Linked DNA regions of Homo sapiens: region 2 is linked to region 1. A link means that fine-mapping ties the variant in region 1 to the expression of a gene that starts in the linked region. Tissue or cell type: whole blood. Region 1 holds a variant in brackets; the other region holds the start of a gene. All regions are shown on one strand. Distances are between the middles of the regions.

Region 1 (2,685 bases):
TTCCATGATACTTTTTCCTTTGTACCGCGTGGCATTCAAGCATAGCAGATTAGAAGGATTTTTTTTAAAGCAGTCTGAAAATGGGACATCTGTAGAGAAATTCATTTCCTTCTTCTCCTCCGGATGTGGAATGGAAGCTTTGAGGGAAGGAAAAGTAGGAAAAGAGCGGGATGGGATGGGATGGGATGGGATGGGATGGGATGGGATAGGAAGAGAGGCTGGGGAATGGGCAGAGAAGGGGGTGCTGAGTGTGCTGTGAGATAGAGCAAGATCACAAGAAGGCCTATCTGTAAGTGCTTTAAGATAAGGTGCAGAAGCAGACTGCAATGTCGCTAGTGCTGCCTATGTACATATTCACAAGAATAAAAAATTCCAGCTAGTTCACATTATCTCGTCCGTTCTGAGGCATCCACTCCACCTTGCTGGCCTTGACCGCAGGCAATGCAGCACCTCCACTGCCCTTGTTGGTCCTTGAACTTGAGTGAGTAGCCCTGGGAGATCCAGCAGGCTCTAGAAACACACGTCTACCAATGGGCTGGAGTCCTGAGTTAAAGAGAAGCTCCAGTACTGGAGTTGGACACAGCAATCAATGTTCTATTGTCAAGGCTTTTTCCCTTAGATTTGTCTAAAATAGGTGTCAGAGAGAAAAAAATAAAATACAAACAAACAACAAAACAAAGCCAAGAAGCCCCAACAACCACCGCGGAGAGTCAGAGGCTTAACAGCTCTTGACGCGGGCCTGGGTGATATCCGATGTTTTCTTGATGACGCTGGCCCGGGTCTCCCGGTCTGGCCGACTGCTGCTGGATGCTGGGGTCATGGAGGAAGAAAGGGGGAGGTCTTGAAAAGGGGGCCAGGAGCTGTTGTAAGGCACCGGATTGCTCTCCTCTTTGATGGTGACCTGGAGGTCCGGTTTGTTGGAAGTGACGAAGGACGCCATGCCGGGCAGCAGGTAGGAGCCTCGAGTCCCCATGTTGCTGAGGTACTGTTTGCCTTCAATATTCCTCTTCCGCCAGTGTGGCCGCCCCTTTCAAGAAAGTAATTAAGATATGTATTTCCTTCTCCTTCTATTGGATGGCTTTTTAAAAATGCATCACTGGCCAGGTGTGGTGGCTCATGCCTGTAATCCCAGCACTTTGGGAGGCTGAGGCTGGAGGATCACTTAACCTCAGGAGTTTGAGACCAGCCTGGGCAATGTAGCGAGTCCTCATCTCTACAAAACGTAAGAATTAGCTAGGCATGGTGGTGCACACCTTTAGCCCCAGCAACTCGGGAGGCTGAGGCGGGAGGATCACTGGAGCGCAGTAAGTCAAGGCCTCAGTCAGCTATGATTGCGCCACTGCACTCCAGCCAGGGCAACAGAATGAGACCTTGTCTCAAAACAACAACCCACAAAAAAAATTTTAAAATGAAAAATGTGTCGTTCCCATGTGTTGGTGCTTTAGCTGAGTTTCTTAAGAACTGCAGAATGAACAAAGGCTTAGCACCTCTACATCCCTCAACTGAAATCTATTGCACCCAGCTATTCATATGCCAAGTAATGGTTTTTCTTCCCTTTTCTTTTTTTTTAAAAAATCAATTCCCATTTGCTACCTCCCAGAAATACTTTCCAGA[C/T]TACTCTGTGAAGGCAGGAAAAGAAGGCAGCAGCTTGGTTTCTGGTTCCCTTGTGCTCTGCGGCTCGGCCCGATTATTCGATAGGTTTCAGGTCACCATGGCCAGTGTGGCACAGCGACTCGGTCCCTCAATGCTGGCCCAGTCAACCTGAGCCAACCTGCATTTTCAGAGAAAAGGCAGCGAGGAACTTAGTGACAGGCAATGAATGCCCCTTGATTGCTTTCAAATGGGGGCGGCTTAGAGCTCCACGGTGTACAGCAAGCAGCGGCCTCAGGGCTGGCTTCATTCAGAGAAGTGGCTAGAGCTGCAACCTTGAAGAAATCAGGCCAGGGTGTATGGGAGCGTGTACATCTGTCTTTTCAGAATCCCTGCACTTTTTCTCAAAGTGTTTAGTACATGGGAAACCACTAATTCAAACAACCATGAGCTTCCCTCTCTCTTGCTCCCTCCCTCTCTCTCTCTCATTCACTCAAGCGCAGACCCCCAGCAGGTGGCCAGCAGGAATGCTTTCCATCTCCATTCCAGCCACTTTCTGCCATTGTGCACGCCCCATCTATGGGAGGGAGAGGGGACGGGACCCACTCGGAATCGAGATGGGGCACACAACCAGCTCTGGGCACGGGTCACAGCGGGAGGGAACCCACGCACACGTGGAAGAGGCTTTTGCTTAGCATTTTGTGACGTGTACTGGTCACTGCTTTTGGCTGGGAAGGCTGCTCTATTTTTGCCGGTGAAGTAGGATGTTTAAGTGGTAAGAGCATCGGCATTTCCCAGCCTCCACTTCAATTCCCTTTTCCTGCTATCACAGCTTCTCTACCTGATGGTAACATTTAACTCCCTTTCCTCCTTTCAGTTCCAACGCCGAATTTTATAACCCCAAACCCAAAAGTATGGTAAATTCTGGTGATGCATATTTCACCACACAAGAAAATCCCAAAGTGAAGCTTGTGATCTAAAGGAAAGGTGCATAACCAGCAGCAAGGAAAGCCCGGAGCTGGTCGGGAGGCTTTTCCTTGGCAGCATCGTGGGCAGGCTGGGCAGTGGCTTACCTCGGCACTCTCTTCATCGCTG
Region 2 (2,685 bases), 85 kb after region 1:
AGTGGCGGCCGCCGCGGCTTTGCACCAACCATGTTCGGCCAGCGGGCGAATGTCACCCGGCGCCCGGAGCCGGGTCGGAGGGCACGGGGCGGGCACTCGCGTCCCCACCCCGCCGCGGCCCGCGCCCCGGGACCCCGAGGGGACGCCGGCCCCCACTGCGCCGCTCGGTCCCCGGAGGCTCCCCGCCCCCACCTCGCCCGCTCCGTAGCCGAGGCGGGTCAGGCCCAGCGCGCGAGGCCGGCCGGGGGCGCCTGCGGGGACCCGGGGGCGCACGGCGCTAGGCCGCGGCCCGGGCGGCTGACCCCTCGGCACGGTGCCTTCCTGGGACGCGCCGCCCGAGCCCCTGGCGCGCTGGGACAAGTGCAATGACAAAGCCCCAGGGCCCGACCGGGCGCTGGCCGGCGGGAAGGAGGACGCGGCGTCCCTTCTGAGCGGCGGCGGCGGCGGCCCAGCCCCCAGGAAGCAGGGCGCGTCGGCCAGGCCCGGCGCCCGGCCCGGCTCCGAGCCCGCCCTCCCGCCCCGGCCGCTGGCACCCGACGCCCGCGACCCGACCCCGAGCCCGGCAGGCAGGCGAGCCCCTGGACCGCCGCGGGGCGCCCCAGCAAGTTTCCTCTGGCCGTGGCTGGAGGCGCTCCTCCCGGCCGGGGAGCGGTGCCTGCTTATTTACGCTGGAGGCAGCCTGGAGAGGCGCCGCCGCGGGCACCGAGAAGGACCCGCTCCCCTCCTTCGGATCCGGTGGCGGCGGTGGCTGCACACACACACACGCGCGCACACACAAACACGCACATACACACAATTTTGTTTTAAATGAGGCCCGACTCCAGCTGACCTGCACCCCCACACACAACACCTGGGGCGCAGAAGCACACACAGCAGGTCTGTGTCCATGGAGCCACCTCTCCGCATCTGCAAATCCAAAAGTGAAATTAAACCTCCACCAACCTCCTCCTCCTCCTCCCTCTCTACCTCCTCCTCCTCCTCCTCCTCGCAGCCTCAGCAGCCCCAGTAGCAGCAGCAACAGCAGCAGAACCTGCTTCCCCTAAAATCAGATGATCCATAATTGCGCCGACTGTTCCTCCAAAAATCAGTATTAATATTTATGAACCCCGGCATTTTCCGTCTGCAAAACATCGTGTCAAGGCATCAGGACACGCATACACACACGGCCCCCCACAGTCCCCAGAAACATGCCCTCGAGAGAAACACACACAGTCACAACTATTATTTGAAAAATGTTACCTCTCAGTGTGCTTTTTTCACGCTACCAATACAATTCCGCAAGGTATAAGTGTTGCTAGGGTATGTGAAATGGAAATGAAAGCCCGTCAGTTGAATAATCGCAGGAGCAAAACTAAAAGTTACTCCCCGGCTTGCCTGAGAACAGTCCAGATCGAAAGCAAAACAAGGAGAGGAAACTGCGAAGAGCCGCGGCTGGAAATCCCCCCACCCCCCGCCCTCCTCCGGCCGCGCTCCCTCCCTCGCCTCCCCTCTCCGCCCTCCTCCCTCCGCCCTTCCTCCCCAGTGTTTGTTTCAAGCTTGTGCAACCGGGAGGTGGAGGCGGAGGGAGGGCGCGAGCGGCCCGGCCGGGAGGTGCGGAAGTTCGCCGCAGCAGCTCATTGGCGGGCAGCGCCGCTTTCATCATTTCTCGGAAAAGTCAATTTCATTTTCGCTTCCCCAGGTCGCGGCGGCGGGAGCAACAAGCAGCGGCTCGTGAGTCCGCGGCTCGCACCCAGGGGCGCCCGCACGTGCGGCTAGAACGTCCGAGTCGGGGTCCGGGGCGGGGGGCGCAGGCCCGCGGCGGTAGGGGAGGAGAGCGGGCACCCGAGTCTCCATCCTCAGGGTGGCCTGAAGGTTCCAGGAGGGCGTCCGGCGAAGGCACGGGGCTGCGACCATCCAGTTAGCAGGGCTGGTGTGACTGTTGAGAGTAAATGAAAATTCGTTTTGTGACACCGACCACCTCCAAGGAATGAAAGGAGCAGTCAGCCGAAACGACAGCATTACTTGCGTCCTTACCTAATTGGAACCTTATCCGTGGCTGAGGGTGCCACCATTGGAGGGGCCGCCGCCCCCTCTGACACCACCTGGCGCTCCGCTCCATTTAGGAGCTAGAACGAAAAGGAGGCCCATCCCCCAGTAAGTCACAGCCCACGCCAAGATGAGTTCTGGAGCCTGTGCGACCGAAGTTTCTTCACCGCAGGGCGAGGTGGACAAGGGTGTGAGTTACTTTGACTTCAAGACGTCTCAGTGGCGGCTGGTTCTGGAGAGAGGCTTTATGCTGGAGCACTTCCAGCAAAGTTCGGCTGGGGCCTCCTTAACTCACTGGCTGGTCACCCTTGGCCTCGGTTTTCAACCAAAGCCTAAGGCCTCAGTTTTCAACGCTGTAAATGGAAATAAATGAGAGAAGAAAGTACAGCCCGTGTGACAAGTGCAGCAAGCAATGCAACTTCCTTGGGACCTACCCTTTGTGGTCCCTTGCTTTAAAAGTATAGATTCACATTTAGTTAGACCTGTTTCTTCCTCGCATGCAATTTCACCAGTCTTTTCCCAGACTTCTGTACTCAACAGAGGAAGTTCCTTCCTGGGAGACCATAGCTGTTTGTATGTAAAGAGTTGCGAAAAAACAAAAGCAAAACAAAAAACTCCAACACCTCTCTGTCACAGAAGTATTGAATTATATAGACTGGA

What was found. PIP is the estimated chance that this variant, and not a neighbour inherited with it, causes the effect.
Region 2: IRF2 starts here. The variant in region 1 is fine-mapped to the expression of IRF2 in whole blood (TOPMed, PIP above 0.99).

What each region holds. Positions count from the first base shown.
Region 1 is chr4:184,388,040-184,390,724 of GRCh38, forward strand. IRF2 (interferon regulatory factor 2) reads right to left here. Exons shown (of 9, transcript NM_002199.4): 8 at 2,664-2,685; 9 at 1-1,027. The coding sequence ends at 719. Among named protein-coding and RNA genes, the nearest start is that of LINC02362, 7.1 kb to the left of the region's middle. RefSeq lists enhancers at 1,098-1,831, 1,832-2,565. The variant C/T (reference allele first, on the strand shown) is at 1,615.
Region 2 is chr4:184,473,140-184,475,824 of GRCh38, forward strand. It overlaps IRF2 (interferon regulatory factor 2), which reads right to left and starts at 1,411. Exons shown (of 9, transcript NM_002199.4): 1 at 1,240-1,411. It overlaps IRF2-DT (IRF2 divergent transcript), which reads left to right and starts at 1,663. Exons shown (of 1, transcript NR_186573.1): 1 at 1,663-2,685. RefSeq lists silencers at 1-489, 570-619, 1,430-1,549 and enhancers at 1,580-1,769, 2,120-2,449.